Linked DNA regions of Homo sapiens: region 2 is linked to region 1. Evidence: fine-mapped expression QTL. A gene starts in region 1. The other region holds a variant in brackets. All regions are shown on one strand. Distances are from middle to middle.

What was found. PIP is the estimated chance that this variant, and not a neighbour inherited with it, causes the effect.
Region 2: its variant is fine-mapped to the expression of NT5DC2 in prefrontal cortex (BrainSeq, PIP 0.95).

The regions. Positions count from the first base shown.
Region 1 is chr3:52,528,565-52,544,624 of GRCh38, forward strand. It overlaps NT5DC2 (5'-nucleotidase domain containing 2), which reads right to left and starts at 5,293. Exons shown (of 14, transcript NM_001134231.2): 1 at 4,942-5,293; 2 at 586-770; 3 at 297-371; 4 at 73-128. The coding sequence starts at 5,173. UQCC5 (ubiquinol-cytochrome c reductase complex assembly factor 5) reads left to right here and starts at 8,041. Exons shown (of 2, transcript NM_001124767.2): 1 at 8,041-8,342; 2 at 11,860-13,326. The coding sequence starts at 8,192. The coding sequence ends at 11,921. RefSeq lists enhancers at 4,403-4,532, 8,360-8,893 and silencers at 4,663-4,752, 4,783-5,132, 5,193-5,692, 7,727-8,026.
Region 2 is chr3:52,490,036-52,505,294 of GRCh38, forward strand. STAB1 (stabilin 1) reads left to right here and starts at 5,303. Exons shown (of 69, transcript NM_015136.3): 1 at 5,303-5,456; 2 at 11,131-11,267; 3 at 11,603-11,718; 4 at 11,971-12,056; 5 at 12,124-12,193; 6 at 12,597-12,692; 7 at 12,964-13,074; 8 at 13,309-13,505; 9 at 13,737-13,867; 10 at 13,993-14,120; 11 at 14,426-14,514; 12 at 14,704-14,841; 13 at 14,968-15,108. The coding sequence starts at 5,379. It overlaps NISCH (nischarin), which reads left to right. Exons shown (of 21, transcript NM_007184.4): 18 at 40-196; 19 at 670-798; 20 at 1,317-1,478; 21 at 1,837-3,033. The coding sequence ends at 2,447. RefSeq lists enhancers at 13,958-14,463, 14,464-14,969. The variant G/C (reference allele first, on the strand shown) is at 8,240.

The DNA of each region.
Region 1 (16,060 bases):
TCCAAGGTAGTCCTGAGCCAGAACAGCAGTGTAGGGTGGGGCGGGGGTGGGGTTGGGGCAGAGCCGACTGACCTGTAGGCTGTCCCCAGCTGCACGTAGTGGAAGGCGTCAATCTTCATCAGAAGGCTCTGGGGGCGCCAGGGAGGCAGGACGGATGGTGAGGAGGCAGTTTCACCGTGGCCCCAAGCCAGCCTCTTTCAGCCCATGCCAGAACCCCAGCTGGATGGGACGGAGGGGTAATGACCATACCAAGAGGAGGCCAAGGAGGGAGCCCCTATACAGGTCCAGCCACTCACCTTCTGAATGTCATAGTGGAGGCCACGGATGGCAAAGCTGGGGTTGTAGTCATACTTCCGAATCCCTTCTGGGTACTGCCGGGGGAAAGGGGCCAGGCCTAAGCCAATAGCCCTGCCAGACCTGCTGGCTGGGTGGCCACCCCAGGGGGTCAATCCAGCCACCTGCCCAGGGCAGCTGCCAGGCAAGAGGGCCAGGGGAGCCCCACGACTCAGCCCTGAGCTTAGGCCAAGGTGGGTCTGGCCAGCCTCCAAGCCCTGGGTTTGTTGGTGGCAAGGACCCCCGTCTCACCTTGTAGTGCTCGATCAGGATGTCACGGGCGGTACTGAAGATCTCGGGGTGCAGTGCGTCTGCATACTGGGCCAGGGTGTAGTCGTAGTCAAAGCCGTAGACCTCAACGTCACGCAGGCTGATCTCGTTGTTGGCGTAGATGGCTGCTGGGTTCAGGAGACTGCAGACCTCGGGGGGCAGGAGGTCTAGAGGAAGGAGATGCAGGGAGGCAGTGATGGGGATGATGATCCCTGCAGCAGCTATGGCTCCTGAGCACTCTGTGGGGACCTAGCCCTGTGAGCCTCAGAAACGCCCCACAATGGCACCTCTTATTCCAGTGCTGGAGATGGTCAAACAGGCCCAGAGAGAAGTCACTTGCCCAGGGTCACGCAGTTAGGGTAAGGCAGAGCCCCTGGCTGGAGCTCCTCCTCATGGTTACACCTGCCTACATTACACTATCTCCTATAGCCCACCAGGTATACTGAGCCCGTGACTACTCCAGGCCCTCACCACTAAGCCCCATCAGACACAAGGCCATGCTAGAACCCTGGCAGCAGTCACTCAACTCCTCACCGCCTAGCCCCAGAACAGCTGCTTTTGGGATGCTCTACAAAGCAAAGCCTCCCACTTGCTCAAAACCCGTGCAGGAACACCACTGTCTGGCCCCCCACAATTCAGCGCCTCCTCTGCTCCTCTCAGCTGCCCTGCCCTGCCCCCTGGCCTCATCTCTCAGCCTCCCTGGGATTATGTGTGAGGATACCATGTGGGCACTGAGGACTCCAACCCAGAGGGGCTGGCTCTGTATGGCCAGACTAGGGGGTTGAGGCCATGGATGCTGACTTTTCTACCTTGCCCAGAGCTGGGACTGGGGCTCAGGAACATTAGTGGGAGGGGGAGCCCCTCTGCCGATCGGGCTGCCAGCTCTGTGCACTTCCCACAGCCCAGGGAGAGTGAGGCCCCTCTAATCAGATTTCAGCTGCCCGCAAGCCCATATAATGACATTTGCTGGCTCTAGCCAGGGAACATTGCTAATTACGACAGTCAGGACGTGATGTCAGGTTCTGGGCCATTATCCAGGTTGCTCCTTCTGGGGATGTGGTCGTGGCCACCCCAAGTCCCTGGCTGCTCCCAGGAGGCTGCAGTTGGCTTTGAGGCCCACAGCAGGGTGCTGAGCAGAGCACTGTGTGGCATGGGCTCTGGGGTCCCAAGGAGGCAGATGGGGCTGAGAGGCCCCATGTTACCTGCCCTGGTTTCCCTATGTGTACAATGGAGAAAGTGGAAGGGAAAGGAAAGGGAAGGAGATGTGCTAGGAAGGCCACATGCAATGAGGTCAGCCAGACAAGACCAGGCCCTCCCTCTCATGGCTATGACTTCAGGAATGTCACCTCACCTCTTGGGCCTGTTTCCTAGTTTCTAAAAGGGTACAAAAAATTGTACCAAGTGGGGCATGGTGGCACACACCTACAGTCCCTGCTACTCAGGAGGCTGAGGCGAGAGGATTGCTTGAAACCCAGTAGTTCAAGACTGGTCTAAGCCATATAGCGATACCCTGTCTCTGTGAAAACATTTTTAAAAAGAAAAAAAAAATTGTACCAACCTACAGAATTACTAAGACTGTCATATGGAAGGTGCTGCTCTGTGCAGCAATCTCACTCTGCACCTGCACATATGCAGGATTAAATGGGTGATATGTTTCCTGAGCCTATGAGCATCCTGTCCCCAATTTCCCAGTGTCCCTCCAGAAGCAGGGGCTGCAGGGAGAAGGGAGCAGGCAGGACTAGATGTACAGGGTACATCTAGTACCCCTGCCTTGCAGGGGCCCCAGCTCTAAGACTCCAGGGGATCCCTGTCTCAGCCACAACCCCAGTGCCGATGACAAAGCAGGAGCTGCCAGGCCAGAGGGCCAGGGAAGCCCCACAGTGTGCCTGGCAGCTGCTGCACTCAAGAGGCAGACATCTCGCTGATGTGCTCCGTGCCCAGAGCACTTGCCTCAGAGGCACTCTGGGGACACAGGGCTCCATTCCCACCCCTTTCCTTTGGAGCCAAGTTCAGGGTGTGGGTGGGGGATCAGGTGTGGCTGGTTCCCCAGGCCAGCACAGAGCGGCTGCTCCGAAGATCTGTGGGTGTAGACAGGAGTCTTCACTTGGATGCAAGTGAGACAGTTGACTGCAACGCTCTAGGGAGCTGCTTCTGAGCCACCCCTCAAGGCCCAGGGTTCTGGTGTGTCACTAGGACCCTGGGCCTTGCCCTTCCCATGGCCCTGAGTTCCCGGATACCAACTGTGACTGTGACTCTTGGTGCAGAAGACCTGGGAGGGTCTGCTCGGCAGTGCAGCCCCTTGCTGGCACAGAGTCCTGGTTAGGTCCAGGCCTTCACCTCTGCCCCTAAGGATGTTCCCAGGGGCCCAGGGGCAGACAGTCCTCCCAGGAACAAAGCAGGATGTGGAAACAGCCACAGGGCCTGGTGGCCTGGCCTGATTTCTAGACTAGAAGAACCTTGGCTCTGGGGCGACAGAAGCCTGTTCCCTTCCATAGGTGGTGTGGGTGGGGGGTGGGGGTGGGGCAGCTGAGGGTGTGTCCCACTCAGCATGTCCAGCAATTGCCCTCCTTTCTCCTCAGCCCTAGCTCCCACACCTGCCCATGGTGCCAGGTCCCAGGGCCAACTGCTCCCTAGCAGCCGTGACACTTGTGGATGCCTTAGAGGCTTGTCTTGTTCAATCCTCACTCCCATCCTGTGAGGCAGTCCCACTTATTCCCCCATCGTCCGGAGGAAGAAACTGGGGCTCAGGGAGGTGAAGTCACTTGCTCCAAACCACCCAGTAACAGGCACCGGGGTTGAGATCACCATTCAAGTCACCCCACCTGCATTAATCACTCTGCCTCTCAGCCTAGCCTCCCAATGTCACCACACTGAGGCCAGGTGGGTGGGGGCTGGGGGACTGAGGGACCTGTTGCACTGCTCTCAGCCCGTGGGCATTAGCCCAAAGCGGACCTCGGCGCCCAGAGGTGTGAAGCTGGCTCCTGCTGGTGCTCACCATGGGATCTTGGTGGGAATGACTTTGCTCCTTGTATGACAAGAGGAGCTTAGAGGGCTGTGAGGCTCCAAAGATGCAGGCAGGCCCAGGAGGACAATGTCCAGTAGATCCCCGTAGTCCTCCCTGAAACCTCCAAGGCAGGCTTCTCAGGATACTCTGAGGGTCTTCTCCGGGCCCAGAGCAAAGACTTCTTAAATAACGCTGGGCCGCCCCTCCACAGACACAAACTCAACCTGGGACCTCGAGGGTGGACAGATGCCCAAGGCTTCAAAATGACCATTCCTCAGGGGCCTTTACCATCCTGCCTTTACTGGTCAAGAAGTGATTCTCCGCCACCCCACAAAGCCGGAGTGAAAACCCCTGTCTAGCCAGTTAGAATCTTCCAGACAGGGCTACTTTGTTTTATCAGACAACAAAAGCCACGTCACCCCTGGGGGTTCCTCCGGAAGCTCTCCTGCCCTGCTTGGCCTGGTTCCAGTCATCACCCAACCCTGGGACAGAGAGGCCCCAGGACTGCGTTTCATGCTTGAGAGAGGGTGAGACTTGCTGGGGGACCACCCAACTGGTCAGTGATAGGGTCACGACCCAAACCATATCTGTCTGCTGCAGAAGCAGGGCCCCACTAGACCCACGGAGACAAGCAGGCAGATGTCCAGCACTCTCAGCTCTGGGGCCTCACTAGTGCGCCCCAGCCGGCCCCCTCCAAGAAGGGGCCTCAGCCTCCTCACGCCATTTCTCAGAGGGAGAGAGCAGGGACAGGGAGGTTAAGTGCCCTTTGCAGCCCTAGTCTGGGCTCCAGGGGGCGGGGGTGACTTGGCTTCTCCCAGCCTTCGCTGCCCGGGCTGAGAGGGGGCCGGACCTCCAGGGCGACATCGAGGTGTGTCTGGGAAGTCCAACCGGTGTCCCCTTTGGTCCGGCCGTCCCTAGGAGCCCGTTCCGCCCGGCGCCGCTCGCTGGCTTTGTCCACAGCACTCTCCCGCCCCAACTAAGGGTTGGCCGAGAACAAGGGGTTGGGGGCGTTTCCACCGCGGCTTCACGGCAGGCGGGACCCCGAAGGAAGTCGGCGGGGGCCCAGCACTCCGGCAGCCGCTCGAGGAGCCCCGAGCTCCTGCAGACCGAGCCGGGGAACAAACCTCCCGCCCGCCCCCGGGCGTCGGGGCGCCCCAGAGGCCCCCGGGATGAACGGCCGGAGCTTCTCGCGAAAAGCCGCCCGGCCCTTGCGCTCCGGGGCCCTGGCGAGCCCCACTGGGTGTTTCCCCGGAGGAGCGGCACCCTGGGGCTCGGTCCGTCCATCAGTCCACGCGGAAGACACCCCGGCGCACGTCCCGCCCCGGCTCACCCACCGTGCACCAGTCTCCGCATGTCCTGGTAGCGAGCCCATAGGTGCGCGCTGAGGTCGGCGCCGCTGGTGGGTGCCTGGGCGGGCGCGGAGCGCGGGACGCCGGGGCAGTGGGCGCCGGGACCCGGGGGGCCGCACCCAGGGCAGGAGGGCGAGGACGAGGCGGCTCGCGGCCCGCCGTGGCCTCCGCACAGCAGCCAGCGCCGAGCGGCCGCCCGCAGCCCCGCACCCGCCATGCCCACCGCGCGCCGCCCGCCGCCCGCGCTGCCCTCGGCCAGCCCGCCGCCCGCCGCCCGCCGCCCTCCGACTGCGCGCCCGCCACGGTGGCCTCGTGCTCCTCACGGCGGCCGGCCAATGGGTGCGGCGCGCGGAGCCCGGCCTGCCAATGGGCGCGCCCCTCGGCCCGGGGGGCGGGAGGCCCCGGACCCGGCGGGGCGGGGCGGGGCGGGGAGGGCTCCCCAGCCCCCTCCCCCAGCCAGTCTCCGGCGCGGTCCGGGAGGACTCTGCGCCCCCCTTCGGCCGTCACGCCGGCGATGGCGGCGCCTTTCCCTGGCCCCAGCCCTGGAAGTCAGCGGGCCTAAGAGCGGCCGTCCCTGAGAGGCTCCGGACGGCCGAGGCGCCGAGAGGAGACAGCCGGAGCGCGACGGGTACCCCCCGGGCCCCCGGGTCCTCTGCCGCCCTCTCCGCTCCCGGGTCCGCCCGCCCTACCCTGCGCCTCTGGATGCTTCTGACCCCAGATCCTCCGCTCCTCCCCCTAGTCCTGGTGCTCTCCTTTCCCGGGGTCCTGGTCCCCGGTCTCTGGGCTCGGACTGACTGCCCACTGACCAGAGCCCGGGCCAGTCCACTCACTGGTCTAACAAATAAAGAGCCCTTCCCGCGCTTCCCGGTGCCAGGCCCACGCTGGGGGAGGCCGAGGGGCCTGCAGGGCAGCCGACGTCCGCTAACCAGGTGACTGGGCCGTGCGCTGCAGGGTTGTGGGCCACGGTCACTGCGCCCGCTTGGTTCGGACCTCGGCAACTGGCCGCACTGACCCGTCAACTCCCGGTTTCCCGGCGCACGCCCCTCGTGAGATGCTGTGGTCTTTTCTAGCAACGTCGACAGGCTTTCCAACAAAATTCCTCTTTCCTGCGCAGAACCGCTCTCCACTCGCATTTCTTCTGCTCAGATCCGTATTCCGAGCCCGCACGCATACCAGGCTGTGCTCAGGGTCCGGAGGAGGCCGACCCAGTAGCCGTGGGCCCTGTCGGAGGGGAGCCAGCTGGGCGCGCGTTGTTTTCTGAGGTGGCCGCGCTGTCTTTCAGGGTGTGTGTACATTCGAAACTCCACTGAACCTTGATTGAAGACCTACAGTGTGGCAGTCCATGGCCTGGGGACTGGTAAGGATTGAGGCCGTAGGATGGGCTCGAGTGTGGCGGTGTCCCCAGGGCCCCAGTGAGCAAGTGGGTGTGCTGGGAACCTGGCCACAAGTGAACCTCCTCCAGGCGAGGGGATGCCCTGCAGCATCCAGCCGTCAAAACCTCCTGTAGAAACGGGAGCGAGCATCAAGCCTGTGTGTGTGCATGCTTGGGCGGAGTCTACCCGGAGGAGAAAGAGGCTTCCGGGCTGGCCCTCCAAAGCCGGTTGTACAGGCGGCAGCTCAGGCTGCTCACTGCGGGCCCTATGACCCTTTCTGGGGCCCTGCTTGCTCTCTCCAGTCTGCTTTTGTATATTTTGTGTCCATATCACCAAATCGTCTCATTGGTTCTAAGCTTTCATTTACCTTCCTTAGATTGTCTAATAGTTGTCTCCTTTCTCAAAGCTGTTCCTGCAGTTTTTACTTTAGTCCTAGGTAATGGGGTGACAGCCCCTTTCAGTTATCTTCAGCAAGCACAGCAGCATGAGAAGACGCAATTACAAGTGAAGTCTCTTAAGTCAGAGCCCTGCTTCTACCTGGCATAGTCTCTTAAACTGTCAGTTAAGAGACTACATATAAACAATACACGTTCAGACTCGGCGCGGTGGCTCACGCCTGTAATCACAGCACTTTGGGAGGCCAAGGCAGGAGGATCTCTTGAGCCCAGGAGTTTGAGACTAGCCTGGCCAATATAGTGGGACCCCCATCTCTACAAAAAATTAAAAAATTAGCCGGGCGTGGTGGTGCACGCCTGTAGTGGTGGGAGGATGGCTTGAGCCGGGGAGGAGGGGGTTGCAGTGAGCCGAGATTGCGCCACTGCACTTCAGCCTGGATGACAGAGCGAGGTCCTGTCTCAAGAAACAAACAAAAACCATGTTTGGGAATACATGTGAAGAGCGAGGGCTCTGCCAATCATTATCATCATAATGAATATTCTAACTAATATTAATCAGTTACTATGCTCCAGGGTTGTGTTCAGTGCATCATTCCTATTACCGCACTAAATTATCACAGCGTCAGAACAAGGCCTCCGTTTTACGGCTTAGGGAATTGAGGCACAGATGGGCTAAGGGAGCACCTGTAGAGCAGGGATGTGGTTTGGTAACAGAGTGCATGCTCTTTATACTGCTCTTCTGCGATTATTGTGAATAAAGCGCCTACAAGTGCCTGTGGAACTGTAAGTGCCCCATACAAGATAGCTTTTATTAATTTTAGGGTTCTCACGGGGCGCTTACTTAGATTTTTGCTGTGATAATTGATAAAGTTCAGCTTTCAACACTCCATATCAAATTCTGTTACTTTAGAAGTCTAGGCACCAATCACGTCTCCGAAATAAACGCAAGGCATTGCATAATTGCATTTTGGAATGTGGTGCTGTACATAGTCCATCAGAGAGGGTCATCACTTCTATCTGGGTATTAGGAATAAAAATGGCGGTGGCAGAGTAGGGGGCGCGGCTGCCAACTGCGAGCTCAGACCTGCACTGGGGAGGCAGGGGGCGGGGCCGGGCCGGCGCCACGTGGGCTGTCCTTCCCTTTTGGGCCGTCCCACCTCCAGAGCTGAGGCGCCTGCGCCAGCTCCTTCGAGGCCCTGCTCGGCTTCAGGGAGCACGCGCGCCCTGCCGTGCTCTGATTGGCGGAGCTGCACGCCCCCGCTGCAGTCTGATTGGCGGATCCGCCTCGCTTTAGAAGGTCGGCGCCCAGTTCCGGCACTCGTGCGCCTACCAGACAGTGGCGGAGGACGGCGCTCGCTAGTCTCCCAGGTCGCGGTACACGGCGAGAACGGGCGGGGCGGTCTCGGCTGCGTCCGGGCGATCCAGTGCTTAGTTCCGTCATATCCCTCTCCACGACCTCGGTCGAGCATGTTCACCAGGGCCCAGGTGAGACGGATTCTGCAGCGGGTGCCCGGGAAGCAGCGATTTGGCATCTACCGGTTCCTGCCCTTCTTTTTTGTCCTGGGAGGAACGATGGAGTGGATCATGATTAAAGTGCGCGTGGGCCAGGAGACCTTCTGTAAGTGAGGGGGTAGCAGTCTCTGTTTCCTTTCAGGAAGGCACGAGGCGGTAGGGATCCGTTTTTCTGGGGAGTATTCTCAGATTGCAGACCGCGCATTCCACTCAGAGCGCTGGGCGAGTGCAGTTCCATTCGCTTGGCAGTCAGGGCGGCCTGGCTCTCCTGTAGGCCGGGCACATTGGCGTCCAGCCTTGTGACCTTCCCTGCACTTACAGGCGAGATCACGTGCTTCTTCCAGCCCTCTCATGCCTGCCCTTCACCCCTGCCGGTGACATCGTTTGGGCTTAAGGAACAGACTTGCTCACAACAATCGTAGAAGGGGGTGGATATGAGGGGTCAGGGAAACTCCTGCTAACTAGCCATTTCTCTTTGGATTCTTCTGTCCAAACTCTGGAGGGAGCTGATCTGCCTGGCTTTGCTAATTACCACTACCTTTACAGGACAGTCATTGGCACCAGGTCTTTGGTCTGGGTCCAGATGATCAGCACTGTAAAGATAGTGGTAACGCCTGGCACTGCATTACTGAGCATTAACTCTGGACAGGCCAGTTCCTTTCAGGAGGACTTCCCCAACCCCTCGGCCCTTTCTGCTTTGCCCCTCTCCTGAAACGCTATCACTTGTGACTTGCCAACCCACATTTTAAAGAATTGTTACATTAGTGATTCCTAAAGATCCTTAGTCCTTCTGTTCATCCATTCATTGATACTTAATGAGCATTCTTGAGGGGCTATAATGAACAAGGCAGAGGTGTCCCTTACCCCAGAAGAGCTCTAATGGGAAAGAAGATGATAAAGACAATTAGCATACAAAGTGATCAGTGCTGTGAGAAGGAAGTGGGAGGAACATAGGACTCTCGGGTGGGCGCCTCAACTGGACTAGATGGTGCAGGGAAGGCTTCCGGAAGCAGCTACCAAGTAAAGTAGGACCTGAAGACTGAGTAGGTGTCAGTCAGATGAGGGGAAGGTGTGTGGAATTGAAAGCATCTCCATGGCAGTGGTAGGAGCACTTGTGTGAGAGTATGCTGTGTGTTTGAGGGATTGAAGCAGATCAACAAAGTGGGGATGGCTAGAAGGGTGCCTGGGCAGGGTGGCAAAGGGACTGGAGAACCAAGAATGGATCCCAAGGATTGAGTCATTTTAGGGAGAGGCTTTAACATGTGGAGAATGGCTCCTTGTGGACAGATTGGTAGGAACAGTTACGCTGTATGGCTGTCCAGAGTTGAGACAGTGGCCTGGTCTAGGTTGGGGCAGAAAGGATACCAAGAAGGGATGGAAGTAAAAGACAGCCCAGAGGTAGTACTGACAGGGCATGGTGATTAAGTGGACTCAGGAGATGAGGAGTGGAGGCTTCTGGTGGGACACCTGGGGCAGGGGGTAGTGCATTTCCTGAAGGTGCCGAACACAGGCAGGGCCATCCTGGGCACCATCTGGGACGTGACGAGGTAGATATGGTTATACAGAGCTGAAGCTCAGGAGGCAAATCTGGGCCAGAAATTGGGATTTGTGAACCATTCAGAAGCAAATTATGATGGAAGTCAAATCCCAACATTTTAATTTAATTTATTTATTTTTTGAGACTGAGTTTCGCTCTTGTTGCCCAGGCTGGAGTGCAGTGGTGCGATCTTGGCTCACCGCAACCTCTGCCTCCCAAGTTCAAGTGATTCTCCTGCCTCAGCCTCTGGAGTAGCTGGGATTACAGGCATGCACCACCACGCCCGGCTAATTTTGTATTTTTAGTAGACATGGGGTGTCTCCATGTTGGTCAGGCTGGTCTAGAACTCCTGACCTCAGGTGATCTGCCCACCTTGGCCTCCCAAAGTGCTGGGATTACAGGCGTGAGCCACTGCGCCTGGCCCAAATCCCAACATTTTAAGGGTAACTGAGAATGGCCAGAAAGGCAAGGAGGGAAACCAGGAGGATTTGTTATCACAGAAGACAGGAGGTTAAATACATCTGGCTCTGTGAAGGGGAGGTAACCCCCCTTCCTCTAGGAGAGACTGCAGGATATGCAAATAATGATCTAGAAGGAGAGGGTGGAGAGAGGCTGGAGATACTGGACCCTTGAGAGGGTGGGACCAGAGCTGGGTGACAGGAGTAAGCCCTTGGAAGTTAGCTGGAAGAGTTCCTTATGATGACTTTCCTCTGTGAAGGAAGAGAGGAAATGGCCATTTGGGGGTGGGTGAAAAAGAGTCAGGATGATGGCTGAGGAAACAGGATTGTCAGACACCTCAGTGGACCCAGTTAGAGGCATCAGTTGGCCCCTCAGGACACAGCAAGCAGGGTGAAGCATGGGGAAGGGAGGAAGTTGGATTAATCTGTGGTTGGGGTTTTGAGGGTGTGTCAGGAAGTTAAGATATTGACAAGAGTATGAAGGAATTTTAGCTGATTTGCCAGGAGAGAGAACAAGAAGCGGCTGAGCGGGTAAGACGGGGCCAAGGACCTGGGGAAGAAACGTGAGGTCCAAGGACAGGAGGGCTGGAAAGGTAACGGGGGTTGTGGTATGAACAGAAATCCTTCAGAGGAGCCCTGCAAGTGACTGGAAGATGTTGAAGGTGAAGGGTACTGGAGCTTCATCCCCATGGGTAATGGTGGTATCTGGGGAGAAGGCACAGGACAGGGTCAAGGAACCTGAGCCAGAGGCCAGCACTTTTGGTGACTGAAGGGGCATGATGGAGAGCAGGTGCCAAAGAAAGATGGTGGCAGACAAATGGCATGAGCCATGAAGGAAGAAGATTTTTTTTTTTTTTTTTTGAGACAGAGTCTTGGTCTGTCACCCAGGCTGGAGTGTGGTGGCACGATCTTGGCTCACTGCAGCCTCTGCCTCCTGGGTTCAAGCGACTCTCCTGCCTAAGCCTCCTGAGTAGCTGGGACTACAGGTGCCTGCCACCACACCCGGTTAATTTTTGTATTTTTAGTAGTGACGGGGTTTCACCATACTGGCCAGGCTGGTCTCAAACTCCTGACCTTGTGATCCGCCTGCCTCGGCCTCCCAAAGTGCTGGGATTACAGGCGTGAGCCACTGTGCCCGGCCTGGAAAGAAGATTCTTTACATGAAGGTGGCGAGTCAAAGGTCTGGCAAAGCAGCAGCTGGAACAAGGAAACTGATCTCCTCTCCCCACCTGAAGGTTTCTGGATATGGGAGAGGGAGCATCAGAGAGCCAAGAGGCAAGAAGTGCCTTTGAGGAGCCAGGTTTTAGTTAAGAAGGATGACTTCAGAGCACAGAATAGAAATTATGGGGGAGAAGGAAGTGAGGGACATCTTAAAACACTAAGAGATGTGCTAAGACATGATTCTATCTTTCAAGACACTGACTTTTACCCTATTTAAGTCTAGAACTCCATTATCATAGTCCTCATCTAACTCAAGTTTTGTTTTAAGTTTATTTTGGCATTGAGTTAAATATTAATGCCAAGATTCAGAAGTAGGTGACAGACCTAGACTATTGGTTAAATTATTCAGATTGTTTTAATTTTAAATATGTTTCTTAAACATCTGAGCAACTTTTTGTTTGATACAGATGATGTCTACCGTAGAAAAGCCTCAGAAAGACAGTATCAGAGAAGGCTGGAAGATGAATGAGACTGAACTTCAGCAGTCAATAAAGTCAATATGAATTTTTACTATTGGTTTCAGTGCCTTTTAAAATATACTTTTCAGATCTCTTGTTCTGACACAGCTTGTCCTTTATCAGCTGCACAATATTCCAATAACTGTTTTTGCAAAGAATTTTTATAGTTCTGTCTCTGCTTGAGTACTTCCCAAGTCACTGCTGGACAGCACTTGTGGGAAAATTATTTCCTCCTAAAACACTCACTCGATGAATCTAGTCCATGAAATATTTCTTAAACAATTCAAGGATCAATCAGGATGCTTTTCAGTGAAGCCCGAATTGTTTTCGGCAATCTTTGTTTTTAGGCAACTAATTATAACCTTATTTACTTTTTTGCAGAATTCAAATTAAATTATGGACACATTCTCTATTGCCAGATCATTTAAACCAGGATAATTATGCAGGTTGTATTTCTGCCAGCTACTAGACTATAAACTTTTTGCTAGGGTGGTGGAAATTCTTGATTGACTACGCATTTCTCATGCTAGTGTTCTTGTGAACAGAAATATGCTCCTCCCTTGCTTGGCTCCCCTAAACTGCAAGGGCTGGATCTTCATGAGGACTGTGGGCAACAGGTTTCACACTACTCTAGGATGAAGATGTTGCTGTTCGATTCAGCTGCTAGAAACAGTTGCTCCTTCCATGAGAAAGTGAACCTACACAGTATAAAGCATCCCAGACTTGAGCTAAATCAGAGGCTCAGTCTATTGAGTGATTTGGCAATCTGACCCAGTGTAAGTTTGGATCAGCCTGGTAGAAAAAGCAGATACCTTTCCATGCTTGCATAGCCACATCTAACATCGTTTCAAGCAAAAAAAAATCTACATACTAAAGACTAAGTTTCAGAATAGTTTCTAACTATTGCATGAGAATAAAGCTGATGCTTAAGGCCATAGGGTATCCTCAAGTTAATGATCTCTGCCACAAACATGTCTCCTAATTTTTTCTAGATTTTTCTTCTAATTTTAGTCCACTTATCTTAGAACCAATTCAGTAAAGAACCATTAACTAACTACTCCCATCTCCTTAAAGCACTACCTACACTACAGTGCAGCAAGCCCAGAGTCACAGCTGGGAGATGGCTTGAATGTGAAAGGCCAGTAATGACCTCTGCCATCAGGGAGAGGACGGTGGTTCATCGTATTCTCATGCCCAGTTGTGTCATCTAGGATTCCTGGTAAACCTAACCTGATAAACCATTTTTAGTGACTTGACTGCTGTATAAAAACTATAGTATGATTCTCAATTATATGGCCATACTCCATGTTTGCCCTAACCCACCTTGTTTTAGGAGTTTAGTATTTGATACATATAGAAAATACGTCATACCTTTTACAAAGAATAATAGTAAACACTAATAAAACCATTGGCTAACTTTTGTGTCTGCTGTGGGTTCATTCCCTGGCCCATCCCCCTGCTTCCACCCCACAGAGAACCATTAGACTGAATTTTGTGTTGGCCTTCTCTAGAGCTTTCCTCTCCATTTCTTTTTCTTCTTTCCATTAGAATGTTAATTTATTTAAGGACAACAGACTTTGAAAATGATGGCCAGGGTTGGTGGCTCAAGCCTGTAATCCAAGCACTTTGGGAGGCTCAGGCAGGAGGATTGCTTGAGGCAAGGAGTTCAAGGCCAGCCTGGGCAACATACACTCCGTCTCTATTAAAAGAAAAAAGAAGGCTGGGTGCAGTGGCTCACACCTGTACTTTCAGCACTTTGGGTGGCCGAGGCAGGTGGATCACCTGAAGTCAGGAGTTCGAGACCAGCCTGACCAACACGGAAAAAGCCCGTCTCTACTAAAAATATAAAATTAGCTGGGTGTATGGCTGGGCATGGTGGCTTACGCCTGTAATCCCAGCACTTTGGGAGGCTGAGGTGGGCAAATCACGAGGTCAGGAGATCGAGACTATCCTGGCTAATACGATGAAACCCCGTCTCTACTAAAAATACAAAAAATTAGCCAGGCGTGGTGGCGGGCACCTGTGGTCCCAGCTACTCGGGAGGCTGAGGCAGGAGAATGGCGTGAACCCGGGAGGCAGAGCTTGCAGAGAGCCGAGATCGCGCCACTGCACGCCAGCCTGGGCGACAAAGCGAGACTCCGTCTCAAAAAAAAAAAAAAAAAAAAAAAAATTAGCCGGGTGTGGTGGCAGGCACCTATAATCCCAGCTACTCAGGAGGCTGAAGCAGGAGAATCGCTTGAACCTGGGAGGCGGAGGTTGCGGTGAGCCGAGATCGCGCCATTGCACTCCAGCCTGGGCAACAAGAGTGAAACTCCGTCTCAAAAAAAAAAAAAAAAGATTGGACAACTTCTGACTTTTAGGCAGGTAGACTACCAAAGCAATTATTGTATTCAATGGAAGATAGGTTTTCAGAGCACATTAGTTTGGATGCTGTGAGTGAGAACTCATTTGTTAGGGTGCAAGCTTTTTTTGAGATGAGTTTCACTGTCACCCAGGCTGGAGTGCAGTGGCATGATTATAGTTCACTGCAGCCTTGAACTCTTGGGCTCAAGCGATCCTCCTGCCTCAGCCTCCCAGGTAGCTGGGACTAGCTAGCTACCATGCTTGGCTAATTTTTAAATTTTTTGTAGACACAGGGTCTTGCTGTGTTGACCAGGCTGGTCTCAAAATCCTGGGCTCAAGCAGTGCTCCCACCTCAGCCTCCCAAAGTGTTGGGATTACAGGCATGAGCTACTGTGCCCAGCTAAGGTATATAAGCTTTTAATTTTTCCTCAAAAGTATTTTTAACTCTCCTACTAGGAATGACTCTATCCTACTTATCAGACACTGAACTATTTAAGGGCGCCAGGAGTAGTGGCTCATGTCTATAATCCCAGCACTTTGGGAGGCTGAGGTAGGAGGATTACTTGAGCCCAGGAGTTCAAGACTAGCCTGGGCAACGTGGTGAAACCCTGTCTCTACAAAAAGTACAAAAAATTAGCCAGGCCTGGTGGTGTGCACCTGTAGTCCCAGCTATTTGGGAGGCTGAGGTGGGAGAATCACCTGAGCCAGATCAAGACTGCAGTAAGTATGATCCCAGCACTGCACTCTAACCTGGGCAATGGAGTGAGACCCTGTCTCCAAAAAAAAAAAAAAAAAAAGCCGTGAAAAGAATTGCAGTACCACCAACTGTAAACTACAGGGCATAAATTTTAATAAATTTCAAGAACTATACTTATTGCAGAATGCTGAAAACCTGATTAGCATTTATTACTAGAACTCTACCTCCACTGTGGTGTTGGGGAAAGAATATGGGCTTTGGAGTGTCACTTTATTATCTGAATTTATAGAGAAAGTACCTAATAATAGTACAACAGTATTACAGCCCCCCCCAAAAAAAGAAAGAAAAAAAGTAGTGAATAAATGAGTTATTTTTGTTCATCTAGCAGTTCTATTTTGGAAGTCTTACCTACATCCCTGATGTGATATTTAATCTCCATTTTGTGTGTGTGTTTAAATTTTTCACACTGAATTAACTCTCTTTAAAGAAATATACTCTTAGCTGGGCGCGGTGGCTCACGCCTGTAATCCTAGCACTTTGGGAGGCCGAGGCAGGCGGATCACGACATCAGGAGATCAAGACCATCCTGGCTAACACAGTGAAACCCCATCTCTACTAAAAACACAAAAAATTAGCCGGGCGTGGTGCTGGGCGCCTGTAGTCCCAGCTACTCAGGAGGCTAAGGCAGGAGAATGGCGTGAACGACAACAACAAAAATATATATATATACGCACACACACACTCTTGGACCCTGTTGTTTTCCAAAGTAATTTATCTCCTAGTAAAGCATGTTAGTGCTTAGTCTTCACACGAGTATTAAATCTGGAGTTTCTTGTCTCATTTATGTGCTATCTGCAAGATGTAAATACCATGAAATAGCCAAAACAGGGAAAAGGGACAGTCCATTAATTTGTTTAGTTCTGAACTTTCATTCAGGGACCTAACATACTTCCAGGCTAAAATGGAACAGAGTAGGCTGGGCGCAGTGGCTCACACCTGTAACCTTAGCACTTTGGGAGGCTGAGGCAGGTGGATCACTTGAGGCCAGGAGTTCAAAACCAGCCTAGCCAATATGGAGAAACCCTGTCTCTACTAAAAATTCAAAAATTA
Region 2 (15,259 bases), 39 kb before region 1:
CTAGGGTGGTGGAGCTGACAGGAGGCCCCCCGTCTTCAGGTTGAAAACGAGGAGCTGAGGCACCTCATGTGGTCCTCGGTGGTGTTCTACCAGACCCCAGGGCTGGAGGTGACTGCCTGCGTGCTGCTCTCCACCAAGGCTGTGTACTTTGTGCTCCACGACGGCCTCCGCCGCTACTTCTCAGAGCCACTGCAGGGTAGGCACAGGGCCTGCTGGGGCTCAGGAGCTTGGAGTGTGTGGTTGGGGCAGGCCTGGGGGGTCATTCTCTGGAGCCAGCTGTGTGGCTTCAGGCAGCAGTCAGCGACTTGGCTGCAGTGGGCTGAGAGTTCCTTGTCTGAGGAAGGGAGCTGTCATGAGGGAGGGGTCCATGGCCAGATGTGAACGCAGAATGCACTGAGCCAGGGCCTGGTGACTGCTTGGGAACAGCCAGTGATGAGAAGGGGTTAGGCAGCCTTTGCCCCTGGGGCTGCACAGGAAGCCCTAGCCAGCGACCTGGTGACTCCCCTGAGCTGGAAGAGGCTCCGACTCCAGAGGGCATTGCCTATGGGGCTTTGCACGGGTGGAAGCCAGGCCAGCCAAGAGGACCTGTTCCTGCTGGATGTGCTGCACACCTAGGAACCTTGTGCTTGCCTGCCACCGCCTCCCTCTGTCCCTTTCTCCATCACACAGATTTCTGGCATCAGAAAAACACCGACTACAACAACAGCCCTTTCCACATCTCCCAGTGCTTCGTGCTAAAGCTTAGTGACCTGCAGTCAGTCAATGTGGGGCTTTTCGACCAGCATTTCCGGCTGACGGGTGGGTGACCCTCTGTGCTTTGTCCTATTTCGGGTGAAGGCCAGCATCACCAGTGGGCTTCCACCTTCCGTACGTGGGTGGGTTATCATAGACAGTTATCTCTGTGCTCAAGAGCCACTTCTTAACCGGGGTGGGAGGAAGCAGCTTCAGGAACTGCTGAGAGAGCAGAACTCACGCTCCAGGGCTCAGAGCAGGAGGTAGGGTGTGCGGCAAGCGCTGGCCCGGACAGAAGCAGAGTGGGCCCTGGTCTCGGGCAGGATGTTTCTGACTCACATTTCCTGAGGAGAGAAAGCTAAGCTCTTTGCCTAATGTCTCTGTCTCCCCTTCCAGAAAAATGCCTCAGCTCTTCCGGCCTGAAGGAATGGCCTCCTCCCGGGCCCCATGATTCTTTCCTGTGTGGGCCCTCCTGGCCCTGGCCTCTGGGCTGAGGCTTGCTAGGGACTCGGGGTGGCTCTAAGGGGCAGGGATAGGGCTGGGGAGCGCCGGCCTGTGGCCCTGACCAGCCCCTTCTCGTGCAGGTTCCACCCCGATGCAGGTGGTCACGTGCTTGACGCGGGACAGCTACCTGACGCACTGCTTCCTCCAGCACCTCATGGTCGTGCTGTCCTCTCTGGAACGCACGCCCTCGCCGGAGCCTGTTGACAAGGACTTCTACTCCGAGTTTGGGAACAAGACCACAGGTACCCCTGTCTAGCTCAGGCTGCAGACAGGCTGCCTGGACAGACGTCATGGGCCCCAGGGTGGCTCTCTGTGCCCCAGAACCCTCTCTGCCTCTATGTCTCTCTTTTCTCACTTAGCTGGCCAGGGTTTTATGTGGGGCTTTTCGATGGCAGAGTCTCCACTCCAGCAGTCCCTCAACCATCTGGCAGACACATCTCCAGTGCCTGCTTTGGGCTCCTGGCCTGTGGGCCCCACACTTGGAGCATCCTCTCCTGCCTGTCTCATGCCGGGGTCTCTCGGTTGGCTTGGGGCCCTTGGTGCTCCCAGCCCCACCAGGGGCCGGTTCCAGGCTATAGCCCAGGTGGCATCTCTCTGCAGGGAAGATGGAGAACTACGAGCTGATCCACTCTAGTCGCGTCAAGTTTACCTACCCCAGTGAGGAGGAGATTGGGGACCTGACGTTCACTGTGGCCCAAAAGATGGCTGAGCCAGAGAAGGCCCCAGCCCTCAGCATCCTGCTGTACGTGCAGGCCTTCCAGGTGGGCATGCCACCCCCTGGGTGCTGCAGGGGCCCCCTGCGCCCCAAGACACTCCTGCTCACCAGCTCCGAGATCTTCCTCCTGGATGAGGACTGTGTCCACTACCCACTGCCCGAGTTTGCCAAAGAGCCGCCGCAGAGAGACAGGTACCGGCTGGACGATGGCCGCCGCGTCCGGGACCTGGACCGAGTGCTCATGGGCTACCAGACCTACCCGCAGGCCCTCACCCTCGTCTTCGATGACGTGCAAGGTCATGACCTCATGGGCAGTGTCACCCTGGACCACTTTGGGGAGGTGCCAGGTGGCCCGGCTAGAGCCAGCCAGGGCCGTGAAGTCCAGTGGCAGGTGTTTGTCCCCAGTGCTGAGAGCAGAGAGAAGCTCATCTCGCTGTTGGCTCGCCAGTGGGAGGCCCTGTGTGGCCGTGAGCTGCCTGTCGAGCTCACCGGCTAGCCCAGGCCACAGCCAGCCTGTCGTGTCCAGCCTGACGCCTACTGGGGCAGGGCAGCAGGCTTTTGTGTTCTCTAAAAATGTTTTATCCTCCCTTTGGTACCTTAATTTGACTGTCCTCGCAGAGAATGTGAACATGTGTGTGTGTTGTGTTAATTCTTTCTCATGTTGGGAGTGAGAATGCCGGGCCCCTCAGGGCTGTCGGTGTGCTGTCAGCCTCCCACAGGTGGTACAGCCGTGCACACCAGTGTCGTGTCTGCTGTTGTGGGACCGTTGTTAACACGTGACACTGTGGGTCTGACTTTCTCTTCTACACGTCCTTTCCTGAAGTGTCGAGTCCAGTCCTTTGTTGCTGTTGCTGTTGCTGTTGCTGTTGCTGTTGCTGTTGGCATCTTGCTGCTAATCCTGAGGCTGGTAGCAGAATGCACATTGGAAGCTCCCACCCCATATTGTTCTTCAAAGTGGAGGTCTCCCCTGATCCAGACAAGTGGGAGAGCCCGTGGGGGCAGGGGACCTGGAGCTGCCAGCACCAAGCGTGATTCCTGCTGCCTGTATTCTCTATTCCAATAAAGCAGAGTTTGACACCGTCTGCATCTTCTAAACCAAGGGTCACTGGGATCCCAGCAGGGCTTCCGTCCAGGGCGTGGTCACATGGGGGAGGGAGGGTGCCCTGGAGACAGGAGGGTGAGGGGTTGGGGGAAAGGAAGGAGCAGCCCTCCAGGAGCCAGATGCTTCTTGGAACATGGGAGGCATGACAGGGCCATGGCCTCTCTGGACAGTGCCATGCTGGGCTGTGGCTAAACCATGAGCGCAGGGCAAACAAGAAACTCCTCAGGGCACCCCTGACACACCAGCCGCTGCCCCTCTGCCTGGGTGCGGGGCATGCCACCCTCTTCAGGCTGTCCTGCAGGTCTTATGTGTCAGTCACCCCTGGGCCCAACCCCACCTGTTTCACAACCCCTGTTGAGAGTGGGGGAGGGGCGAGGAGGACAGAGAGATCCCAGAGTCTGAGGTGGCTGGTGGGGGCCGGGGCATCTCACCAAGGTGGCCCTTGAATGGCAGCAGGGGAGGTCTGTGGGGAGGTGGACCCAGGTGGTGGACAGTGGAGGGAGGGGCACATACCCATCTGTGTCTGTCTTCATGTCCCTGAAACATGAGGCTCATGGGCCCCTCCCTGAGGGTTGCTTCAGGGAGCCTGCTGAGGTAGGACCTGGGATTTTGGTAGCCAACCCCATGCCACACTCTTCCCCAACCCCATTCCTGCTGCCAGAGCAGGGCCTATGAGCCCCACATAACTCATCCTGGCCCAGCCAGGAGCCTCAGTCCCCAGGACCTTGGGGCAGCCAGGCCAGGCAGGGCTGTGGAGAGGTGGGTGGCGTGGCCAGCCTGGGTCCCAGGCCTGCTTCTGTTCCCCCGTTTCCCTTGGTGCCAGCAGAGTGGGGGTCCTGCCTGGAGGACCCTTCACCCCCAGGAAGACTGTGGGTGTGGGGAATGTGGGGAGGGTTTCCCCTTGCAACCCCCATCCCAGCCAGATCTCAGGCCTGCCTGAAGGCCCCTCCAAACTGATGGGAGTGGAGGTGTGCTGGGGAGGAGAAACTTTCCCCAACCTGGCCTTTACCAAAGCATTTACAGATGGCCACCGGGCTCTGGCCCACTCCTGTCTCCCCAACTGTTACGCCGTCTGCAGTTGGGGGTAGTGACAACTGGAGGCAAGGCCCACCACGTGCAGCCCTGGCACGCAGAGGCCCTCAGCCTGGGCCCACTGCACCTCTTGGGGGTGCTGGCTGTGCAGGCAGTGGTGGCTTCAGACAGTAGCCCTGGGATTGGATATGAAAACTGATTACCTCAGACAAGCTACCCAGCCCCTCTGAGCCTCAGTTTCCCCACCAGTAACAGAGGGATCATAAAAGTAGCCACCTCCATTCATTTATTCCTTCTGCACACGTGTATTGAGCATCCACTGTGCGAATCAGCCAGACAGCGCCCCTACTCTTCCACAGCCAATGTTCCAGGGGAGACAAATGAAACAAGCCAATGTCAGCTGGTGGCTGGTGCTGCCAGGTGAACCAGGTGCAGGGCCACCTGCAGGCTGAGACCAGGGAGGCGCTCTGAAGTGGTGGCCCTTGACCTGAGACCACCTGTGAGAAGGAGCCAGAGTGTGACAATCTAGGGTAGCAGCACATGCCGGGAGAGCTCACTGAAGGAGCAGAGAGGCCTGCGCGGCTGGAGCAGACCTGTCTGGGGAGAGTTCAGAGAGACCAGCCAGCTGGAGAGGGGTTTGGAGGTGCTGCAGCAAGCTGGCTGAGCATGGGCTGCTGAGTGGAGGGCAGATAGGGAGGCAGGGAGGGTGGATGGGGGTTGGCGGGCAGGACCAGCGGCTCAGGAGTGGCTGGGGCTAGTGAGGGGATGTGGGTCTGGTGGGCTAGCAGGGTGCCTGTAGCGAGTCAGAGCCCCATGAGCGCCCTGGAGTTGGAAAGGTGGAGGCAGGAACAGACAGACCCATTCAGGGGCTGCCCTGCCTTCCGCCGACCAGCACCCCAGGAGCCTCTGAATGAAACACACTGGGCTCGCAGGCGGGGGACTCGTTCACGTGTGCCTTTGGATTTGCTTCAGAACCTCTGATAGAGCCCAGGTCCCGGGGCTCATGGTGGCCTGGACTTCCAGGTTGTGATGCCAGGAGGGTCCCAGCCGGGAAGCCCCGAGCAGGGCTCAGGCCGCCCATGGGGGGTCAGTGGCCAGCACCTTCCCTTCCGCCTGCAGGCTGCTGATATGCAGGAGGAAATCCTGGCGGGTTCCTGTGGGGGTGAGCTGGCGGGGCCTCCGGGCTGCTTTTAAGGCCACTGCCCGCCCCGTCCCGCCTGCCTGTGCTGTGCCTGCCTCCTAGAGCTCATTCCCTACGCCCCGACTCTGTCCTGGACAGCGTGCCCACCAGCCATGGCGGGGCCCCGGGGCCTCCTCCCACTCTGCCTCCTGGCCTTCTGCCTGGCAGGCTTCAGCTTCGTCAGGGGGCAGGTAAGTGTGAGCCAGTCGCAGGGGCACACGGCGTCTGGGCCCTGCCGGCCAGCGGTGGGAACAGGGAGGGACTGACATGGAGGGGCAGGGGCCTGGGGAGAAACCGCAGCTGGCGCCTGTCTGGCCTCTTAGCAGGCCTGGGGGCTGGCTATTGTGCCCACCTCCCCAGTCTGAGGTCTGCGTCCAGCCACCCAGGGTTCAGGGGTGTGTCAGCCCACCCTCCTCTGACTATGCGGGGCCGGGGCTCCCCAGCGTGCAGCTGAAGTGTACAGAGGCAGGCCTGTCCTGCCCTTCTGGCCCAGACGGAGGCCCAGGTCTTATGTGGCCCTCACCTGGGGGTTGAAGATGTGATCACCTCCAACCCCCGAGGACTACAGATTCACGTGGGGCAAGTGTGTGCACATGTGTGTGCCTGTGTCCAGCCCCAAGAGTACCGGGAAGCAGAATGAGTCACTCACCCTTAGTGTCCGGGGTTATGAGCAGCTGGCAAGGACACACTTCAGCCTCAGAGCTGCCACAGAGCAGCCACAGCCCCGGGCAGGTCCCCTTGAATCCTCACAGCCTCGGGGCAACTCCTCCTGTCCTCCTCGTGAGGAACCCGAAGCCCTAGGATGATGGGGACAGGCCATTCCCACTCTAAAGCCATGCTCCAAACCCCTGCCTGTGATGGCCATCCGTGTGTGCTGGCGAGCAGACAGGGTCCTGGTATGCAGCCACAGCCAGCCCCTCGGTCAGGTCCCTGTGACAGGCTCCTGGCTGCAGGTCTGCTCAGGCCCCATGGTAGGGGCCTCTGGGAGCTTCTGGAAGAGCCTCCCACCCTGGTGATGGGGGTAGTCTCTCTCCTGTGAGGCTGAGCGTGTCTGCCTCCTGGAGCAGCAACCACTATCCCCATGGCACAGATGGCCAGACTAAAGTCCAGAGCGGGGAGGACTTGCCCAGGATCCCACAGGCAGTCCAGCCAGGGGCCTAGGCCCCCTGCCACCATCAGGCGCTTTCTCTTGGATGCCTGTGGTCCCTCAGAGAGGCAGCAGGGAGAAGGGCCTCACCAGCTTCAGGACCAGGCCAGGGCTGGGGACAGGAAGATATGAGGCTGAGAAGGCGACAGTGATGGGGGAAGAGCCAAGGGTTCCAGGGCTGTGCTGAGAGCCCTGCAGGTAAGCTCCTGCCCTCCCCTTAACTCAGTTTCCCCCTGTGTACCATGCAAGGGAATTTCAAAGGCCTCCGCCACCTCCTCATGCTCTGGGCAGTGAGGACAGAGGTCAGTGAGGGGCCTCAGATTCGAGTTTTTTCCTTGTCAGAGACCTATGGCTCTGACCACTCCTTGTGGATGGGGCTGCAGCAGTGCTGGCCACTCTAACACAGCTACGTGGCCTCTATCCCAGCACCCTGCATAGCCGAGAGCCACTGTAAGTGCAGTTGGCCCTCTGTATCTGTGCACCCTGTACTTGGGTTCAACCAACCCTGGATTGAAAATATTCAGGAAATAAAATGGCATCTCTACTGAACATGTTCAGACTTTTTTTCTTTTGAGGTGGAGTCTCGCTCTGTAGCCCAGGCTGGAGGGCAGTGGCGTGATCTCGGCTCAGTGAAATCTCCACCTCCCAGGTTCAAGCGATTCTCCTGCCTCAGCCTCCCGAGAACTGGGATTACAGGCGCCCGCCACCACACCCAGCTAATTTTTGAATTTTTAGTTTCACCATGTTGACCAGGCTGGTCTGTAACTCCTGACCTCAGGTAATCCACCTGCCTCAGCCTCCCAAAGTGCTGGGATTACAGGTGTGAGCCACCGTGCCCAACCCCATGTTCAGACTTTTCTATGTACATAGCATTTACATTGTATTCGGTATTATAAGTCGTCTAAGGATGACTTAAGGTATACGGGAGGATGTGCATAGATTATATGTGAATTCGATGCCTTTTTTTTTTTTTTTTTTTTTTTGAGATGGTGTCTCTCTCTGTTGTCCGGGCTGCATTACAGTGGCGCTATCTCAGCTCACTGCAACCTCTGCCTCCCAGCTTCAAGGGATTCTCCTGACTCAGCCTCCCAAGTAGCTGGGACTACAGGCGCACACCACCACACTTGGCTAATTTTTGTGTTTTTATTAGAGACAGGGTTTCTCCATGTTAGCCAGCCTGGTCTCGAACTCCTGATGTCAGGTGATCTACCCTCTTCGGCCTCCCAAAGTGCTGGGATTACAGATGTGAGCCACCACTCCCAGCCTCGATTCCATTTTATACCAGGGACTTGAGCATCCACAGATTTTGGTATCTGAGGAGGGTCCTGGAACCAGTCCCCCATAGACACCAAGGAACAACTATATTAGGAGTGGAAGCTCTGAGGGGAAAGGATATCCCGGGTAACCTGTTCAGTAAGGGCAGCAACAGGACTGGAGTGAAGATGGGTTTGGGCAGCGAGGCAGGAAGGCTTTCCTGGAAGGCCCTTAGCACTTGCCCATTCAGCAGCTTTTCACCGAGGGCACGTGGCTAGGTGTGTGCAGTGGAGCCTGTGGCGGGAGAGGAGCACGGTCCAGAACCCAGCCCTGCACCCTCCCTGATCTGACCAAAGGTAGGGGGAAGCAGTTTGGGGTTCCTTCCTCTCTGACAGGGTTTAGATTCTGGGCTCTCAGCCTTAAAAAGTCCCCATGAACCAGGTCCCAGCTTGGGAGAATTTCATCCACCTTCTCACCAAAGACTTCACACTTCGTGTCTCCTCAACTTCCCCCAGCAGCAGCTCTGTGGGAAGCAGACATTGCAAAATCAGGTCTGCGGGGGGTGTGGGGTTG[G/C]GGGGGAGACAGCACCCGCTCTGGCTCAGTCCCGAGGTGCCCCCAGGAAGGAGGGAATCTGACTCAGCACTCAGGCCGTGATCCAGCCTCACTCCACCCAGCTGGACCAACGGCAAGATGTGGGCTCAGACCGCCGATGCTCCTTCCAGGCCATGGGGCGGAGGCAGGGCCCCTCGGCTGTGGTCTCGGAGAAGCACTGATGTGGCAGCAGGCTTACCATTCATCAGCATTTCACACACGTTTACAAACACCCAGGTCCTGTGAGTGAGTGTCCACACCAGGCCCCAAAGCTCCCGCTTCCTTCTGGGCCCTAACTCACCCATCGCTCCATCTAGCCCTGACTGTCTCAGAGTGCGACCAGCACAGTCTTACTCAGCCTGAGCCCTTATCCAGAGCTGACCACCATTCCTCCAAGAGCTGGTCCACAGCCAGAATGGTGACCGCGCTGGCAGCTTTGCCCAGCTGGCCAGGTGGCTTTGAGGGGAGCCCACCTCCTGCCAAGCCTCTACCCTGAGCCAGCAGCTGCTCAGCCCTCAAGTTACCCAATTTCCTAGTCTCTCCCTGGCTCAGCAAAGGCGAGCCTCAGGATGGGGAACGAGACCACAACATCCCAGCTCCGCCGTTCAACACAGGCTGCTCTGAGCAACTTCCCTGTTTGCAGACCGCAGAGGCATGAGCGGAAAAGGCCAAATCACGGTAGCACAGAGGCTCTGGGGCCCTGGTATTTGCCATAAGAAAGTGTCAGGGGCACCATTTCTCCTTTTCTCTTGCTTTGAGAAGCCACACATCTGTAAATTATTCCAGGAAAGGGATGTTCTGGGGTCACTCCCTTTGGACCACAGTGTGGTCAGCATTTTTCAAGATGAGAACATCTCCACTTCTCTGGGCCATGCCCAAAGCCTCCCAAACACCTCCCCTCCAACCTATGCCCCTTCCCTATGCCCCTTCCTCCCACTAGAACTGGGAGTTTAGCTTCACGCCTCCTGGTTCAGTGCTGAAGGTTGCTGGGACTTTGTTGCCGTAGAAGGCTGGTGGACTTCCAGGAGCTATGGCAGGCCAGTGAATGGGACTCCAGGCCTGGGGCTTTTGTCAGCATCCTTGTGCCCATGCCGTGGTGGCAGGCTGGACTCCTCACATCTTCCACGCCCCACCCAGTTGCTGAGACCTTCTCCCAATTCATCTCACCACCCCAAGCCCTCTCAAATATCTCCCAATCCATTTCCACTGTCCCTGCCTTGGCCCAGGCCACCTTCAGGTAATGATGGCCTCTTTCCCACCACACCTGCCCCTGCGACTGTATTCTCCATGCAGCAGCCAGAGGGCCAATTTAAAACAAACTGGCCGGCCGGGCGCGGTGGCTCACGCCTGTAATCCCAGCACTTTGGGAGGCCGAGGCGGGCGGATCACGAGGTCAGGAGATCGAGACCAACCCCGCTAAAACGGTGAAACCCCGTCTCTACTAAAAATACAAAAAATTAGCCGGGCGTAGTGGCGGGCGCCTGTAGTCCCAGCTACTTGGGAGGCTGAGGCAGGAGAATGGCGTGAACCCGGGAGGCGGAGCTTGCAGTGAGCCGAGATCCCGCCACTGCACTCCAGCCTGGGCGACAGAGCGAGACTCCATCTCAAAAAAAAAAAAAAAAAAAAAAAAACTGGCCAGGCACAGTGGCACATGCCTGTAGTCCCAGCTACTCGGGAGGCTGAGGCAGGAGGATCGCCTGAGCCCAGGAGTTCAAGATTACAGTGAGCTAGGGTCACACCACTGCACTCCAGCCAGGGCGACACAGCGAGACCCTTTCTCAAAGACAAAAAACCATAAACTGAGTCATGGGGCTGCCCTGGACTCTGCCTCACCCAGGTTTACGGAGCTCCTGCACCCCAGCTGCCAGCCCCTCTCCAGCCTCCCCTCGGGCCACTGCCTGCCTTGTCACACATTTGTTTTTACTTCTTTCCACTCCCGGCCTTTGCTTCTGCTGTCCCCTAGGCCAGGAGCACTGTCCTTGACCAATTCTCATGCATCCTTCAGGTCCCAAGTCAATGACCACCTCCCTCAGGAAACCACCTGGGGCCCCAGCCAGGATGCCCTGGGTTTCCTCAGAGGCTGGCATGGCCCGTTGTCTCCTGTGACTGCCCAGCCCAAACACTTGCAGACCAGAGTCCCTGCACACAGCTGCTCACGTGAGCCCAGCCTCTCAGGGCCAGGGCCCTTAGTCTCTGATTCCTGGGCAGCGGAGAAAGCCCTTGCGCTTGGTTAGAGAGGGTCATTTGGTAGCAACGTGGGAAAATGCTCAGAGCAGAGTGGTGGCTGGAGGTCCAGCCCCACGGTGCATGGCTGGAGCCGGCATCGTGCCTGTGCCCATGAGTTGAGGATGGAGTCGCCGTGTCCTCCCAAGACAGCATCAGCTCTGTCATTTATTGTTTCTTTATCTTTAAACAAAAGGCAAAAGTGAGCACTAGGCTGGGAATCTGGGTTTAGTCCCTGGTTCACACCCTGTTCATGGATGAGATTGGGTAGCGGCCATGTCCTGGGCTTCAGTTTTCTCACCTGAAATGGGCTTGGGGGAGCAACGTGGCTAGATTCTCTAGTGTCAGAGGGTGTGGACTCAGAGCCTTCTGGGCCGGGCACATAAGGACTCGATGTGACATTAACAACTTGTAACAGACAGGTTTCACAGGGCCTTCCCCATCTGCACTGCATTCCCACTGAGCGCCCCCAGGGCATTCTGTGGACCCCCAAAGAACTCAGCTCTGTGCCCAGAACCCTCTGCTTACTCTGACCCCTGAGCAGATGGGAAGTGGCAGCTGGAGGGGTGTGAGCCCTTGCAGCACTGAGGACAGGGTCAGGACTGGGCGTGGGGTCCAGGCCCCTGACCACACCCTGCCTGTGGCCCCAGGTGCTGTTCAAAGGCTGTGATGTGAAAACCACGTTTGTCACTCATGTACCCTGCACCTCGTGCGCGGCCATCAAGAAGCAGACGTGTCCCTCAGGCTGGCTGCGGGAGCTCCCGGATCAGATAACCCAGGACTGCCGGTGCGGGCCACCCCTGTCCTTGCCTGTGTCCAGGAGCATCCTGTGGGGTGGCAGGGACTCGGGGAGCCTGACAGGCCCACAAAATGAGGAGAAGCACTCACTTATCCATGCCCCTGTGGCCCCACCTGGGTGGTGGAGATAGGCGGGGAGGAAGGGGTAAAGGCGAGGGGCAGGAGGGGTTTATGGGGCACCTGCTATGTGCTAGGCCCTGTGCTCAGCTCTGGGCCAGGCAGAGCAGGGAGGTGGGTGGGAGCCCCGGAAGCCAATGTGGGGAGGCTGGGTGGGGGCTGTGCAAGGGAGCCTTTTCCATCACCCTGCCCACCCTCTGCCCCCAGCTACGAAGTACAGCTGGGGGGCTCTATGGTGTCCATGAGCGGCTGCAGACGGAAGTGCCGGAAGCAAGTGGTGCAGAAGGCCTGCTGCCCTGGCTACTGGGGTTCCCGGTGCCATGGTATGGGAGAAAGGGGGACCCCGCCTTGCGCCTCCCACCCAGCCCCAGCTCTGGGCAAGCCCTCTGCAGGAGCCACCTGCATTCCCCTTCAACTTGTTTGTTTAATTAATACTCACCGAGCGCCTCCAAGGCTCGGCCCCCTTGCTCTTGCTTCCTTGGGGGAGGGGCCGAGTCTGGGGTTGGCCAGAGCTGCTGGGGTCAGGGTAAGCGGAGGGTTCTGGGCACAGAGCTGAGTACTGTGGGGGTCCACAGAATGCCCTGGGGGCGCTGAGACCCCATGCAATGGCCACGGGACCTGCTTGGATGGCATGGACAGGAATGGGACCTGTGTGTGCCAGGTAAGGGCTGGGCAAGGTGGGGTGGAGGCTCAGAGGGGCCACGCTGACTTGGTGCATCCACCACCAGGAAAACTTCCGCGGCTCAGCCTGCCAGGAGTGCCAAGACCCCAACCGGTTCGGGCCTGACTGCCAATCGGGTGAGTGCTTAAAAGGCAAGAGGGCACGGCCAGCGTCCACCTGGGGGCCCACGCAGATGCAGTACCTACAACCAGCTCCCACCTGTCCCTTCAGCCTCTGTCCCAGCCCCTCAGATTTGCACATCCCTTTCAGGAACATGTGCTTTGTTTTATCACACCTCCAGCCCTTTGCACATGCTACTCCCCTGAGAGGCCTTCTCCAGGAAGCCCTCTGTGAGCCCCAGGCCGGGCCAGTGCCTTCTGTGGTCTCCCACCACCCCTGTGGTCCCGCATCACAGCTCTGTACTCTTAAGGTTGTACCTGCCCGAGCTGAGTTCTAAAAATACAGAGAGCAGGGACCCGATGTCCCAGTGTGTGCCTGGGAGAGGCTGGGGCCCCATCTGTCTCTGTGTGTCCCTCCCAGTGTGCAGCTGTGTGCACGGAGTGTGCAACCATGGGCCACGTGGGGATGGAAGCTGCCTGTGCTTTGCTGGATACACTGGCCCCCACTGTGATCAAGGTGAGCAGCGCCACTGGGATAGCCTAGGGCAGCAGGTCCCTGTGGCCAGAGCAAAAGAGGCCGACTGGGTGAGGATGGGGCCTGAGCCTCAGCAGGACCTCCGCCTGGAGCCTAGTTGGGGAAGGGGTGTCATCTGAGACCTCCACTGTCCAGAGGCCCAGCAAGGTCAGGGCCCTGCTCCAAGTCACACAGAACAGGCAAGGCCCCTTTGCCCCTGTGTTCCTCCCCAGCCTGGGCTTGGGCTCATCAGTGCTCTCTCCACTCTGCGCAGAGCTGCCCGTCTGCCAGGAGCTGCGCTGTCCCCAGAACACCCAGTGCTCCGCAGAGGCTCCCAGCTGCAGGTGCCTGCCCGGCTACACACAGCAGGGCAGTGAATGCCGAGGTGAGCCTGGACTCAGAGGCCAGGGACTTCAGCTCAGGGCGGGCGGGGGCTGGGAGAGCATCCTTTAACCCAGCAAGTGCAATGTAATTCACAAGGAGGGAGAGCCATTCCTAAGGGGAGCCTATCCTCAAGGCCTAGGTCAACCTGCTGGCCCCGGCCTTCCTGGTGAAAGCTGTGGCGGAGACAGGGCTCCTGGGTGCTTGGCTCACTTGGGCTCTCTCTCTGCCCTGGCAGCCCCCAACCCCTGCTGGCCATCACCCTGCTCACTGCTGGCCCAGTGCTCGGTGAGCCCCAAGGGGCAGGCTCAGTGTCACTGCCCTGAGAACTACCATGGCGATGGGATGGTGTGTCTGCCCAAGGACCCATGCACTGACAACCTTGGTGGCTGCCCCAGCAACTCTACTTTGTGTGTGTACCAGAAGCCGGGCCAGGTGAGCCAGGGTCCCAGGCCGGAACTGTCCCCACAGTGCACCCAAACACTGGCTATGGGACCCTGGGCAAGTCACAGGCCTTCTGGTAGCCTCAGTTTCCCCACTTGTAAAGTGGGGAGAGGATAAGGGTCCTCTTCAGGGAGGGGCTGAGCAGGGCTCTATGGGTAGGGCAGACACCAGTGGTTCTTGGGGTTGGACGTGGTGTTCCCCTCCTGCCCTGTCGGGGGCCAGGCCTTCTGCACCTGCCGGCCAGGCCTGGTCAGCATCAACAGCAACGCTTCTGCGGGCTGCTTCGCCTTCTGCTCCCCCTTCTCCTGCGACCGGTCTGCCACTTGCCAGGTGACCGCTGATGGGAAGACCAGGTGAGCACAGGTGCCTGGGAGCAGAGACAGTGGGTTGGGCAAGCGTGCCCTCTGCGGGAAGGCGTGGGGGGTGCGGTGGGGGGGGCCTCAGCCTCCGCCCTGACTGGCTCTCCCTGGGAGCCCAGCTGTGTGTGCAGGGAAAGCGAGGTGGGGGATGGGCGTGCCTGCTACGGACACCTGCTCCACGAGGTGCAGAAGGCCACGCAGACAGGCCGGGTGTTCCTGCAGCTGAGGGTCGCCGTGGCCATGATGGGTGCGTGACCCCACTGCTTGCCCACGACCCGACCCCTCACCCCCAGCACAGTTGGCAGGGAGGGAGGAGCTGCCTCTGCAGATTCCAGTTTCTCTGCCCAGGGCTGTGGGAACAAACAGGTGGCTGTGGGGGGTGCATGCAGGGGGTGGGAGCTGCTCTCCAACCTCAAGGCCCCCATCTACCCTAAATCTAGGGAGAATACCCCCACCCCAACTCCCCCACACCAGGTCTGATGCCCGAACATCTTCTGAGATCCCCAGAGTCTCCCCAGCTCCCTTCTGATGCTCCCTCACCCTGCCCCCCAGACCAGGGCTGCCGGGAAATCCTTACCACAGCGGGCCCTTTCACCGTGCTGGTGCCATCCGTCTCCTCCTTCTCCTCCAGGACCATGAATGTAAGCCCCTCCCCATGGTGGAGCTGGCCACTGGCCCTCACCTCCTCCCCTGGATGCATCCCCAGTCTTCAGGGCCACCTGGAAGGCATCAGGGCCTGGGATGCATCCTGTCCCCTCCATTGCTGGGTAGAGGTGGTGTGAAGAGGACTGGCCCCCCGGCTCACTTTGCTCCCCGCCTTGCGTCTGCAGGCATCCCTTGCCCAGCAGCTCTGTAGACAGCACATCATCGCAGGGCAGCACATCCTGGAGGACACAAGGACCCAACAAACACGAAGGTGGTGGACGCTGGCCGGGCAGGAGATCACCGTCACCTTTAACCAATTCACGGTGAGGGAGGAGCCTCAGCCTGGGGACAAGAGGAGTCACAGCCTGGCAAGGGTGTGCAGGTGGGAGGGAGCCTCCGGACAGGGGGCTGGCATATGGGATCTGGCCAGACCTCTTGTGTCTCACCAGAAATACTCCTACAAGTACAAAGACCAGCCCCAGCAGACGTTCAACATCTACAAGGCCAACAACATAGCAGCTAATGGCGTCTTCCACGTGGTCACTGGCCTGCGGTGGCAGGCCCCCTCTGGGACCCCTGGGGATCCCAAGGTGAGCCAGCATCCTCCCCTCCCCTCCCCTGTGCTGCTGGGTAATCTCAGACCCCTGCAGAGAGCAGTGAGTGGGCAGGAGCCATTCTACTCAGGGCTGGAGCGCAGCTTCTCCCCGCTGGGCTGAAGCAGCCTCACCCCTTCCCTGGGGC